Linked DNA regions of Homo sapiens. The protein of the gene in region 1 interacts with the protein of each later gene in a pairwise test. Each region holds a gene or a part of one and is shown on either strand. Other genes may lie near its edges.

Region 1 (7,329 bases):
AGTTGACCTGCAGAGGCAGGAGCAGCTCTGGTGGACACCGAGCCCATGTTTTTCTACCCCATGTCCAGTGCGTTAGCACAGGACAAGTCTTTGAGGCTGCAAAAATGAACGAGATCTAGTCCCTACCCTCAGGAGCTCAGATAGAGGCAAAGGTTTAGAGTATCTTAGGCAGTTGTAGTTCTACTTCCATTAGAGGCTCATCTTGGCCTGGAGCACAGTCTTTCAGTGAGAGACTCTCAGAGTTTATACTTATGAAATGAGGAATAATGCCTACTGCCAATTAAAATGTACCTTTTAATATGCTCAAAAATTTACAAAATATTCTAAGGCCCTTAGCACTACATCAATACAAAGTATCACTCCTATTATTAATGGATAATCGCTACCACTATATAGAACATTTAAGTCTGATGCTCTGTGCATTAATGAAATGAATTTGCTTGGTAAGTAAGGTGACCTTATACCAGCTCCCACAGCACAAACTGACAGGGGCTGAGGTAACCAGGTACAAAAAGGTTTTGAAGTCCTGATTCCAGTTTGAGTTATGTTAACATAATAAGGAAAAGATCAAGCTGAATTATAAGAAAAATGGGAATGGAGTAGAAGGAAAATCCTGGTACCAAAATATAGGGTTAGGAGAAATACATGGGTAACAATTACTGGGTGAAAGAAAGCATCCAACCCTTTAGCCATATTGTTTTTCATCTCCTGATCTGAATTTACACAGCAGGGTTACACGGCTGCTCAGCAGCTGCCCAGCTCCATTCCAAGGCAGGTAAAACTATTCCTGGGCAAGAGCATGCATTGAACAAAATCAACAAGCTCCATGCCTGCCTCCCACGGGAGACTGTAGACGTCAGAGGGGGCTCTGGCTTAGCGTGCCATAAGGAGGGCTGTGCAGAAAGAGACTCTGGTCAGGGCTCTGTAAAGCCCTGTGGAGTCTGTGGGGAACAATAAGAATGCAGAATATAAATGTAAGCTGCAGGCTGATGGGCCCATTAGGAATTAGGGCAGTCTTTGAAAGGAATCTGCAGAGATGATGCAAAACACTAAGCATGTGACCCAAATCATGGCAGGGCATATTGGAGGGAGAGGGGAATGGGAATGAGACATTTTCTAATCTGATTAGTCTGAAGTTTCCCCTGAGTGTGGAGAAGGGTCACTGCACAATTAGAGGCAAAGTTAGACTGAACATGGTCTGCTTAGCAGCTGAGCGGGATGACCTCCTCAAAGCTAAGCTGGGCTTGGAGACAGATGTGTTCAGAGACTGAGATGACTTCGAAGCAAGTTCTGAAACAATCTTTTTGCATTTAATGTCAAATCGTAAAGGCAAAGACAAAACAGTCTGCTGAGAGAATGAGAGGATGATGACTTGGTGGCCTCAGCACTGGATAAGAAACATGTAGGTCCTCCAGAGGCCAGGCTCCCACATTACTGGACTTTCCAGGACAACTCATCCTTAAGACCATCAAAAGATAATCTAATAAACATCCACAGCTTCCTGACTAGAAGACAGCTTAATGTGTGAAAGGCATTCAGATCCAATTGTTGAAAAACATGGCTTCCTCTACATAGAAAGACACAGGTTTCTTCCAGTTCATTTCTAAGTCTGAGTGTGTGGTCTATGGTCCCTGACTTAAATTTCTCTCCTAGTCCTCAATCAATTCTTTGCACCAGGTACTGTGCTGGGTACTTTATGTATGTTATCTCAATTAATCCTCTGAACCACTAGGAAATAGGTACTGTTACGTCATTCGAGAGATAAGGAATCTGAGGTTCAGGCAGGTCAAAACCCTTGCACAAGATCACACAGCTAATAAGTGGACTCAAAGAATTTAAGAGATGGGAGTGGAGGAGGGGGGTAAAATTGTCAGGATGTGACAACCCATTGGTTATTTATAGGTGGTAAATCACACAGAAGCAGTGTCTGCATCTGAATGAATCGAAGTTCAAGTCACAACTCTTCATTCCAAGGTAAGGGATAAAGAGACACATAAATAGCACTGTGAGAATTCTGAGCAGGAGATAATCACTCTGATTATCAGCCAAACGAATGCAACAGAGCTTCATGGATATGGTGCCACTTGAAATGGGTCTTGAAGGAAGAGCAAGCTTTCAGCAAGTGAAAACCATTGGGAGCTATTGCCTACTGATGAAATAGCAAGGGAAAAGGCCAAAAAAAAAAGGGGGGGGGAGGGGGAAGGCAGGAGGTATATGTGTAATATGCTAAACGGCCCATGTGGCTGGACTACTGGGAACAGGAAGGGGAGTTTTGGGAGTGGGGGATGATATCTGTGAAGAACTCTGAGTCCAAGGCCTGCCTACTTCATCTCAGTTCCTTCACGGCAGGATCCCTCACACGGCTGCTAGCAAATAAAAGCAAATAGAGTTAAACAAAAACAAAATCAAAACAAAACAAATAGAACTGATAATCTAGAAAATTATTCCAGGTTGATTCAATGCACATACACATCCAACTAGATTTGCCCTCTTCTGGGTTTCCCTCCTGATACCTTGGACCCTAGTTCCCTGACATAGAATTTGGCTTTATCTGTTCCTTTGGTTTCTCCTTTTGTCTCAAACAAGGACTCCCTACTTCAGACCCTATTTGAGAACAATGCTCCAGCTGCGAACCCTAAGCCCCACTATGGAGAAGGAGCTTAATTCAAAGTTAAAGAGCTGGTCCTTCCTTAGAGAGCAAAGAGACACCACAGAAGGTTTGTGAGTAAAAGTGCAATAAGATGACATACATTTTTGCTCTTAGAAGGTACTTAGCTGCTATATGTAAAGATGGATTTAAACATTTAGACACTGGTGGATGAAAGACCAATGTGGTGGCACCGCAGTATTTAAGAAGCAATGTGGGTCAGAACAAGAATGATGATAGTGGAAATGGAGAGGAGAGAGTAGAAGCAAGCAGTAAGGAGGAGGTAGAACTGTCAAGACATCCTAATCTACTGGCTATTTGTAGACAGTAACTCAAAATGATTAGAAGCAGAGGATGTGCATTTGAAAAGTTCAGGATTCAAATCAGAGCTCTTCTTCTTCTACACTATGTGACTTTGGGCAAAATACCTCATCTCTCTAAACCTCAGCATCCTTACGTATGAGATAAGAAGGATAACAGTTTCGACCTCACCAAGCTGTTCTCAAAAAGTAAATGAGATAATATATCCAAAACAATGATCACAATGCCTAGAACACAGCTGAAAATGTCAGAATTATCAAGATATATAAGTCAGAGGAGGAGCTAGAGTGAGTGATGCTATAGGAAGCATAAGAGATGGCCAGAGTCTAGGTGGCTGAGAGGGACATGCCAGGAAATCAAAAGTCAGGTTCAACAGGAGAACTGATGTGTTTTAGAAAGCAGTTCACCATGCTCTCATTTTATAGCATCATAATCTCTATGTTTTACATCTGGTGCTCTATCAGGACAGAGCCCCATGCTAATAACCCTAGGTTCTCTTACTGCATGTCTATAGCTATCAGGAACTGCTGCTTTGAAAAACCTGCCCTGAATTTTACATCTAATGTCCTCCTAACCAACAAAGTTGTGTATTTCATTTTGTCCCAGGAATCTGTGGATCTATAAGTGTGTATTCATGTTAAAAAGATAAAATAATAATTTGTAATAGGCTCTCTAACATTCAAAATCAAGACAAACTTTTCCTTCTGTAACACTTAAATGGAGGCAGGTCACCAATAATATAATCAAAACAGTTAAGGGTAAATCAAGGGTAATTAAAGGGAGATGTAAAACCAGGAATGGTCCCCCAAATAAAACTATGCAGGACAATCCCTATCAAGAGTGGAACTCTAACTTACCTTGACAATAAGGATTCTAGAAGATCATCACTCAAAGGTAATCTGGAGGATTTGCACAGCCTTTTAATGTCTTTGGTGGGTAATACATTTTTTCTGCATTAAAACAACGTAAATGAGCTTTTATATACCTTGTATACCTTTAGTAATAATTACATACTATAGGAAAGAAAATACATTTGTGATGTTTCCTGAGAATGTACACATGGAAGTATGAAAATTGGTATTGGAATTCACAATAAGGAAGAACAGTCACATTTCATTTCATCAACTTTTTCTATTTCAGAGGCCACCAGACTCCATCCTTACAAAGGCTTTTCCTTCAAGATGCAGATTCTTGGTTGGTGACAGTACAGCCTATTAAGGCTACAGCCACAAGTGTTGCTCTAAGTAATTGATCTGCATTCTTGACCACTAGTCAAAAATGGTTCTGATATTTGAAAACATCTCTTAATTTGACAGGCATCTAGAGCCTCCAACACAAGTATGATATGACTTGAGGGTGTTTTTCTGTTCTTTTCCTTGGACCCAAACCTTATCACCTGGAAGCCCCAGCTGGGGCCTCAATATTCACTTCAATTTTTTCAGATGCTAGCAGTTTTCTCTAGAGCAGCCCAAAAGTCATTTTCTCCAGTCTTATGGGGGCAAAGACATTCTTGTCCAATGTTCTCATTCAGCCAACACTTTTCCAGGCATCGGGCAAAATTAGAACCAACAGGAAAGAAAGTTGGCTCTTTTCTTTGCAATGAGAATGTTTATATCTAGAATCAAAGCTTGATGGATCTGGAAGAACCTCAGGCTATCTGGTCAAGCAGCCCCATTGTTCCTAAGAAGTGTTCCTTGAATGAAGGAGGGCCACACTTCTCACTCTGGGGAAGGGGGCAACACCAGGGTGGAAGGCAGGGCCAGGGCCATGCAAAACTCAGGCCACACATCTTCTAGGAAGCTTGGGAAAGCTTAAAGAGTCAAGGAAAAATACCATCTTTATAAAAACTCAAAGAGGATGCATTATGGATTAATAAAAAAAATGATTATTTCTAAGACAAACTATGGGACCTACACAGATATTCAGGGAATGCAGTTGGCCACTTGGGTTCAGACTTCAAGTTTGGGGATAAGGCAAGAAGTCACAAGGAAGAGAGATGGCAGTGGTGTGCAGCAATACGGATTAGAAGCTAGAGCAAGAACTAAGATTTTTCTAATTCCAGATGAAATCAGTAAATTTATATTTCTCCCCACTGTATAAGGTCTGTAAGATGAATGCAAAAAAAACACATTAAGTTGTTTGCATCCAGTTGTATGTAACAATGACTTAATGAAGCTCAACACGCACACAATCAATGTATAAGAAATAGCTTATACTGAACTTCATTATTTTCAAGAAGAAATAATTTCAAAGAAATTCTACAGAATGTTTGCTTGAAAATTCCATTTTCTATTTATTATAAAAGTTACATTTATAAATCCCCATCAGTACTAAAATAATGTAAAAAGACGACATCTCAGAATTAACCCTCCTAACATTTTGATTTACTATGCTTCAGTTGAAAGCTTCTAGAAACAAATGAAAAGAACATGCAAGGGAGAAGCCTATTCTTTCAAAGATACAGGGCCTCCCCTATTCCGTCAACAAGACTAGCCTGGCCAACATGGTGAAACCCTGTCTCTACTAAAAATACAAAAAAAAAAAAAATTAGCTGGGTGCGGTGGTGCGAGCCTGTAGTCCCAACTACTCAGGAGGCTGAGGCAGGAGACTCTCTTGAACCTGGGAGGTGGAGGTTGCAGTGAGCCGAGGTTGCGCCACTGCACTCTAGCCTGGGCGACAGGGCCAGATGCCATATCACACACACACACACACACACACACACACACACACACACAAGCTCTCCATCACTGGGAAATATCTGTACCTAAATACTTCTCCGAAAATGATTTAAGGTGTTTGTGCTAAATAGTAGAGTATGAGTATGATGACACATGTCTATTTTCTTTTTGCACTTTTTGATAAAATAGAAATTCCTTCATTACTCAGGTTCACAGAAATGTAAATGATTAGAATCAATAAAACAAAAGCTTACTTTTCTCGATCTTCATACACACAGGAATAAATGAAAGTGTCGAAATTCTCAAACATATTTTTCTTGAACTTTTCGTGGGCCAGTGCGATTAAGAAATCCATATCTGAACATGTGCCCTCAGGCACACGGTAGTGACGTGCAATGGTTACAAATTCTTGCTCTGCAAGGTTTCCAACAGTCAAAGACATCAATATGTCTCTGTAATAAAAATGGAAAAACATTTATAAACTGATATCTAAGAATACAGTATTTTACATCTCCTTCTATTTAAAAGATCCAAATTCCATTTTACAAAACTTTTACCAACTGTACAGAGGTCATGTGATTTTTTTAACTTAATTTCTCTTCTTAATTTGGGAGCAGCAGGAAGGCACCAATGCCAGAATGGAAAATCATAGGCACTGTAGCTTATAAATAAAATGGCATTTTGCCCAGAGTTAAACACCTACCAAATAACAGCCTGCAACCAGGAAGTAAATTTTTAAAGGCTTTGAATGGTCAAAAAACCTATTACTAAGTACATGACTTTATTCAATGCCTATTAATCTTCCTTACACAAAATAGTAACAGGCTTGGGTTTCTGGTTTCCTGGGACATAAAATTTGTAAGTTAATAAATTAGAAAGGTGTTTTGGGATGGGGAAAGCAATCATGCACATTTCTGTAATAAAAAGTAAAACTGGACACACCCTGGCAGTGAGAAAAAAAAACAAGAGAAAAAAAAATGAAAAGTTAAAAGACCTATGTAAGCGTACAGCTGTCTGCATCTTTAGAAGGCAAATGGTACTGAGATTATTAGGCAGAGCTAAAAAAAAAAAACTAAACAACAACATATCAATGAAGACGACTCAAGGCCTAGCAAATTGGCTGAATTGTTTTCAATGTAACTCTGTATGAAAGCCATAAACTAAGCAGCATACACCAGACAGAATTATATCAAAATGATTAAAATGCAAAATGTTATGGTGGTTACAGGAATAAGCTTCCACTGTCTAGAAAATTTATTTACTGGAAATAATTCAGTTCCCAAGAATCCTGAATAAACAAGGGAATAGAAAATTTTATTTGGCCTTCTGCTAGAAAGAGGTCTTTCAGAATAAATGCTTTCAGTTCTTTTAGGTATTTCTGGACATTATCATCTAATAATTCTAGATTCTCCTAGTCAAGAATTTCCATAGAGTCTAGGAAAGCCCACAGCATTGATGTTGACCTATCTAAAGGAAATTCATTTAATCTACATCTACTTCTCAAGTTTCCTGGGTTGTTTTGTTTTGTTTAAATTTGGTTTTGCTTTTGTATTTTTAATGGGAAATGAATGCAAAATCCAACCAAGATGATCCCAGAATTTCAGCAAGTCAGGTCAGACAATCAATTAGTAATATTGGCAGGAGGCTCGCTATATGGAAAACACTGTAAAAGGCTCTCTGGCA
Region 2 (7,329 bases), on another chromosome or scaffold:
CAAGTGGTGCCACAGTCTGGGAGGGACATTGGCAAGCTAGAGAGGAGTCAGGGGACGCTTGGAGTCCCTAGGTGGGAAAGATGTCAGAGACGCAGGAGCTGAGTGGCAAGGCAGGGAGGAGTGGCGCCCAGGCTGGCCGAGTCGCACACTGACCATACTCGGAGGCTTTCCAGGGCAGCAGGTCCGAGGACCTCGCTCCGTGTTCCTTGAGCTCCTTTGCGCCCCCTGCCTTTATCCCACACGTGTCCCGAGCGCCTTGTGCCAGGCCCAGGGACAGAACCAGGCAGGCAGCAAGGACCTGCCCCACACTCCACACAATGCCCCACTGACAAGGAGAGGCCACCCCCAGAGCACGGGGAAGAAGAGAGAGGCAGAGAGAGGCAGTCCCGCAGGCTGAGTGGTGCCCTGGGCCTGGGTGGGCCTGACTGCAGGGCAGGGGTGGGAGGGGTACGCTTTAGCAGTGAGTTTTCTGATGAGTTGAGCTGGAAATGCTGTGTCTGCTTCATGGGGCAGAGTTCTACTGAGTGGGAGGTTCTTTCTGAATTCTCTCCAACTTACAGAAGGCTATAATTTATTAAATATAGTTATTGACTTTCCTTCTTAAATATTTAGAAATGAATCCTGCCCTTCCAAAGGATTGGCAAATCTTAGCTGGGATACAGAGGCATGAGTGTTTAGCATTTTCATTTCAAATTTCAAGACCGTTTATGTATAAACATTTTTAGAGACTAGAATTACTGCTCAGAACGAATTTTGCCCTTTGTCTCCAGGCTGCTTAATCCCCAATTTCTCTTACTCTTTCTACTTCATACATCGATTTCTTTTATTACCTGTCTTCTTCAGCCTGCCAACTTCAGTACTTATTTAGATGATTAGAAGTTTTAACAGTCCTCTGTATGGCTGTGGTCATAGCTGAGGTCTACCAGTAATAAGCCTTATAATGCAACCTAGAAATTACTTCCTGCCCTGAGGTTAACACTGGTTGCATCTTGTTGATTGTGGTCCTAGATACATGTTTTTATTTAAAATGAGGCACTTATGTACATGGTAGTTAATATTGGAACAGTGCCTTGTTTGGGTGGGTCTGCATCATTCCAGTTCTGTGTTAATTTTTAGAAATCACGATACGTAAATGAAGCTACTGGAAATTAATAGAACATGTAGAAGGAGTTACAGGAAATACCAAGAGGTGCCATTGTTCATGTTCCACATCAGATGTTCATTAGAGTGGGCACGGGCAGCCTTTGCATGTTGGATCACACCCAGGCGCCCTTTCTGGGTTTCAGTATCTCTAGAGTTGGACGGGTCTGTGAGAACACCTGTGCTTCATGGCCAGGGGCTGGCTCTCCGTTCTCACGTGGTGCAGAGTGTAGTGAGCTTGCCCGTCAGAGGGGGTGTCTCGAGTGGATGAGGATGTGGGGGGAGCAGGGGCCTCCCAGCCTGGCTCTCAGCACTGCCTTTTCTGTTCACCCTGGGGTCCCTAGAAACACTACTGTACCTTGAAGGCCCCCTGGACCCAGGGAAGCCCAGTGTGCCGGGCACCTCCTCCTCTACAGTGCCAGGGAGGCCCAGAGTGCCGGCACCTCCTCCTCTACAGGCCAGGGAAGCCCAGTGTGCCGGCACCTCCTCTACAGGGAGGAGGCAGGGCTCAGAGAGTGAGAGGAAGTCGCCCAGGTGCGTAAGGGGACAGCTCCTCTGTGGCCGCTGCTGCTGTTATTTACACGCGTGCCTGGATGCTCTGACCTCAGGCCCGCGGACTTTCCCTCTGAGCACATGCTGAGATGCGGTCCGGGGGCGCCAGCCTCAGAATGCCTCCCGCAGGGCTCGGCCCCGAGGCAGCAGATGCCAGAACGCCCTGCGATTTCTCAGGTGGACCAGTCGGCATCTCCAAGGAACAAATTCTCAGAAGCCTCCTTTAGTTCCAGAAATGGGCTTAAAAAAAACCTTGCTTACAAAGGAAATGAAAACTTTGCAAACATTAGAACGTCTCCTTATTTTGTTCCCAAATGATAACACAAGCATTTCCTCTACAGCATAACTTACTGATAATTCTTTAACTTTTGACAAAAAAAAAATTGCCTAGGAAAAATGTTTTCCTCAGTAGCCCTTTAATCATTCCTTACACAATGTAATATGTGAGCAAATCTAAAGGGAGTTGCAGGGTTTCCTCTGGGGCGAGGTGCGCCGTGAGTTTGCTCCTAAGTGAGAAGGCCGGGCTTTCTGTTCTGTAGGAACAGCCTGAGTGTAAGTGTTTGTCAGGAGAAGCGTTTCTTCCTATCCCCAATGGCCAGTCATATGTCTTTGGGGAAATGTCTCTTCAGATCCTTGGCCCACTTTTATACTGGCTGCTTCAGGTTTTGCTGGTGAGTTGCTGGAGTTCCCGCATGTTCTGGATACTGCTCCCTTGTCGGATGAATGGCTTGCACATGTTTCCCCTTCCCACAGGTCGTCTCTTCACTCTGGTGATTCTCTTCCTTTGCTGTGCAGAAGCTTTTTAGTTGAGCAGAGTCCCAGTTGCCTGTTTTCGTTTTTGTTGCCTGTGCTTTTGAGGTCTTAGCCATGGATCTTTCACAATAGCCAAGAGGTCGAATCAACCTCAGTGTCCTTCAGTGGATGAATAGACAGAGAAAATGTGGTGCTGTACACAGTGGAATACCATGCAGCCATCAAAAAGGATAGAACCCTGACATTTGCAGCAACATAGATGGAACTAGAGGCCCTCATGTTAAGTGAACTAAGCCAGGCACAGAAAGACAAACATGGCATTTTCTCATTCATCTGGGGGAGCTAAAAACGTTGCTGTCATGGAGGTAGAGAGTATAATGAAATCTGTTATCTATTCATTATTAACGTTAGCTTCTGGCAAGGGGATTTCTATCTGCCAAACCCCACTAACTAGCATGATTACAACAACATTTTATTCCTTCTCTTTGTTTGCCCATTCATTCAGCAGACATTCCTTGAGTAGCTACTGTGTAGGGGATATAGTGGTGATAAACTATTGTCCTTTTTAGCAAAACACGTTCATTCTACAAGCAAAAAGATGTTAAATATCACAGTAGTTCAAGTCCTTGGAGACTGTTGCTGCTGACTCTTCCTGTGTGGCCTTCTAATCTTTACTCCTGGCTTGTGTTTGCTTTATCCAAGCCCATTCTTTAAAAGGTACATGATCTATAACCTGTTTTTCTAACTTAATGTATCATAAACAAGTGTCCAAGTAATCAGCTAGATCGTTCCCAACCCCCAGAGCATCCCGGTGTGCAATGCCCCTCCGTTCTGTTAACACCAAGGTGTCGGGGAAGCCGCATAGCTCTGCCATGCCTGCTGGGTGCTCGGCCCTGCAGCGGAGGCTTCATGGGCATCAGGCCATCTCCTTATTTCTTAACGTTACATCCCAAGAGTGGAGCTCCAGCATCAAAGGTTAGACAGATTTTGAAGGCCTTTGACATAGATTGCCAAATTGTCCTGCAGAAAGGGTGCCACTAACTGATTTGTGATTCACCCAACAGTGTTCGCCGTTCCTCTAGGCCAAGATGGTATTACCATGTTTCAAAAGTGTTTGCCAATTTGTTGGGTTTCAGAATACCTTTTTTGATGACCATGATGTGTTTTCCTGAGCGCCTTCCCCTTCCTGAGCTCTGCCGTCACTGGTCCTCACCGCGTGCTTTTCTCACTGTTAGTTGTTTGATTTGCAAGCTCTCTGTGCTGACCCTCGTCTGCCTCATACATGGCCAGTATTGTCATCATTGCCCACCTTTCGTAGAGGCAGTTGTTTTATGATTTTCTCTTTATTTTTAATTTTTGTGGGTACATAATGTATATATTTGTGGGGTACATGAGATGTTTTGATACAGGCATGCAATTTGTAATAATCACGTCATGCGAAGTGTGGGATGTCCATCCTCTCCGGTGCTTATCCTTTGTGTAACAAACAATCCAATCATACCCTTATAGTTATTTTTAAATGTACAGTTAAATGTTATTTCCTTTTTGTTTTCTGCCTTTGATGTTATGTCTGGAAAGACATTGCCAACTACAAAAAAGCATTGTAAACTATATTATCCTAGAAACTGCAAAACGGCATTGTAAACTATATTAGCCTAGATTTCCTTCTAACTGTTCTGTGGTAAATAATCAAACTGAATAGAAATCAACGAGATGATGCTGGACAAGGTGACAGAAGAAGAACTCGTATCGGGAGGAGGAAACTGGAGTGGTGAATTGTGCTTTCATGTTGTGGCACGTGTTGAAATCTCATGCTCTCATTGCTGTCTCATTTGTTACATGTACGTTTACGCTCATATATCAGAATTCAGTGCAGGTGTTTTCATCGTTGTTTTTCTTGGTGTATATTGCTGATGTTTGGCCGTGACAGACTGTGATGGTCATCGTGTGTTCTGTCCCCAGACGAGTTTGGCGCACAGACTTGTGGCACGAGAAGGCTCGGCCGCTCCACTTCCCCTCTACACATCGCCATCCTTGCCCAACATCACGCTGGGCCTGCCTGCCACCGGCCCCTCTGCGGTAAGTCAGCCCCCGTGGGTCCGTGTGGTGTGGGGTGGTGGTGATGGGTCCTTCCACCCGAGCATCCTGGCTGTGCTTTCCAGGGCACGGCGGGCCAGCAGGACGCCGAGAGACTCACCCTTCCCGCCCTCCAGCAGAGGCTCTCCCTTTTCCCCGGCACCCACCTCACTCCCTACCTGAGCACCTCGCCCTTGGAGCGGGACGGAGGGGCAGCGCACAGCCCTCTTCTGCAGCACATGGTCTTACTGGAGCAGCCGCCGGCACAAGCACCCCTCGTCACAGGTGAGCACAAATGGGCCTGGGTGCAGCCAGGCTCTGAGGCTGCCCACGCTCTGGATGGTGCCCCGCCTTCGCCTGCCTTTGGAGGAGACAGGAATGCACGCCTGTCCCACCCCCACAGTTCCCAAACACACATCCCCATCACGTGATGTAGCCACCGTGACTGCAGTGAAAATCCATGCCTCACTCCCAGAGTCAGGTAGATGGAGTGGAAACAGAAGTCACTTCCCCTTTCTCACCTTTTGGGAGAGGCCACCGGCTCTTGCGATTTGGGTTTCTGTCTGGACCAAGCTGAGCCAGCGCTGGAAGCCCAGAACCGACTCTTGTGGTCAGTTTGTGTTAGCGAACTTTTACAAATGTGCACTGTCTGGGGGAGTGGTTACATTTAGAAAAATACAATTTAGAGGAAAATGGGAACGTCCTTATGAAATTACATAGCAACAGCAATGTGAAAGTGTCACTTCAGAAATGAGGGCACACCGGCCGGACACGGTGACTGACACCTGTAATCCCAGCAGTTTGGGAGGCCGAGGCAGGCGGATCACGTGAGGTCAGGAGTTCAAGACCAGCCTGACTAACATGGTGAAACCCCGTCTCTACTAAAAATACAAAAATTAGCTGGGCGTGGTGGCGCACACCTGTAATCCCAGCTACTTGGGAGGCTGAGGCAGGAGAATTGCTTGAAATTGGAAGGCAGAGGTTATAGTGACCCGAGATGGTGGCACTGCACTCCAGCCTGGGCAACAGAGCGAGACTCCGTCTCAAAAATAAATAAATGAGGGAGCAGCTACCTACCCCCTTGCCGTGCGGGTCATCGTTGTACATCTTCATAGCTTTGTGTTTGGCTTCCTGGAAACCTGTTGTTGCCAATTGAAAGCTGAAATACCCTCAGAGCTGCACCTGTGAAACTCTGGCAGTGAACTTGGTGAAAACTCAGGGGCTTGGCGTGTTGTAGGAGGCTGCGCTGCAGGATGCGTGGGGCTAGGGGCTGGCTTGGGTGGGCTTGGGCCTCTGGCTTGACTAGTCTGGTGGATTTTGGTGTTTTCTTGTTTTGTGCTGCCCATGTGTCTCTGTTTAGACAGAGAGGATTCCTTCTTATTCCTTCTTTGCCCAGAAGCCAAATGGCGCAATCTTTGTTTTGTGCCTGAGCCCCTTTCTGTTTGTTTCTCCAGAAGCTTGAATTCGTGTCCCTGCCTGTCCAGAGCAGAGGAGCCCGTGGTGTAACGAGGGAGGGGGCAGCCCTCACAGTGCCTCTCTGAGCTGCGGCCACAGTGGCAGGCACGCGGATCTCTCTGGAGGAATGTATCTGAGGTTGCGTCTGAGTCTCTTGGATGCTCTAGATCAGCTGGCACGAGTGTGGGTAGTGAAGGACACCTGAGTTTCTCGCCTGTCTTTAAAAACGTAAAATGTGCCTGATCTTCAGGATTCCTGGGATTCACTTCGTCAGAGATGTTTGTCACTTATCTTCTTTCCTTCTCTAAATCAGTTTATTCTGCACGATTAAATAGCATGCGTAATCTTGTGTATCAGGTTTTTGGAAAACAGCCTTTTTGATAGAACCTGGATATCGAGTGTGCATGGGTCTCACCTCTCTGAGAAACGCACTGAACTCGGCGTTGCTTCTTCCCTGTGTGCGCTCATCCCTCTTTTCCTCCCAGGTGCAGCTTGCTCGTTGGCATGGGGACCTGCCCACCGTGCCCTGCCCAGGCTCTGTGCCACCAGGGGGCCCATGCATGGTTGCCCAGCTTGCTCTGGCCTTGCTTTACGCCTGTGCCCAGCAAGCCCCTCCAGTCCTATGCCGCCACCTCCAAAACCCTGCAAGCCCCTTCTCTCCTGCACAGCCTCCCCAGGTTGCCAGCAGCTCATCCTGCAAACCCCCTGGCAGGGAGCCTCGGAGCCAGTGTCACGTGTGCAGCGTAGTGCAGCCACACAGCCGCCTCTGTCCCAGCTTTCTCCTGCTCCATGACCCTGGGAAGCCGCTTATGCTCTGTGTGCCTTGTTTTCCCATCTAGGAAGTGGGGATACTAAGCGGTCCGCCCCCGTGAGCCTGATGAGGGTTAAGTGGGCTGTGCACTCATGTGCCCCTGCAGGTGTTGGCATCATTGTTGTAGTCATTGCCTTGTTCTTAACCTGCCACCTCCCATGCTCTCTCACTCCCCCAGCCAGCCCCTGTCCGTCCTCAGTGTCTCAGGGGCCCTCCCCCAGCCCCGCCATGAGCAGGGCCCTCATTTGGAACCCGCTGGGATTGCCCCATCTTCTTGTGGGAAGAAGCCTCCTGTGCAGGTTCCTCCCCTCCGGTCTGTCCTCCTGTATCCACCGGACTCTCCTTGAAGGCCTGGAGGCCCCCACGCTGTCTAGAGCAGTACTGGCCAGGTCAGGAGCCACCAGCCACGGGGAGCTGTTAAATAAATAAGTCAGAATTAGAATTCAGTTTCTCAGTCACATGTGCACCACATCCAGTGCACGGCCCACGGCTGTCCCCTGAATGTTCTCATTGTCACAGAAGGTCCTGGCAGGGCGGCACTG

Evidence for each region. The genes of interacting proteins can lie anywhere in the genome.
Region 2: the proteins of EFHC2 (region 1) and HDAC4 interact in binary tests that used the Homo sapiens proteins (3 or more experiments, as listed by UniProt).

Annotation. Positions count from the first base shown.
Region 1 is NC_000023.11:44,172,467-44,179,795, forward strand, and holds part of EFHC2 (EF-hand domain-containing family member C2), read right to left. Parts: intron 6,099-7,329; coding exon 5,901-6,098; intron 5,743-5,900; coding exon of another isoform or gene 5,741-5,742; intron 3,919-5,740; coding exon 3,826-3,918; intron 1-3,825. UniProt on the Homo sapiens protein: Microtubule inner protein (MIP) part of the dynein-decorated doublet microtubules (DMTs) in cilia axoneme, which is required for motile cilia beating.
Region 2 is NC_000002.12:239,131,722-239,139,050, reverse strand, and holds part of HDAC4 (histone deacetylase 4), read left to right. Parts: intron 1-4,407; coding exon 4,408-4,524; intron 4,525-4,607; coding exon 4,608-4,806; intron 4,807-4,812; exon of another isoform or gene 4,813-7,329. UniProt on the Homo sapiens protein: Responsible for the deacetylation of lysine residues on the N-terminal part of the core histones (H2A, H2B, H3 and H4).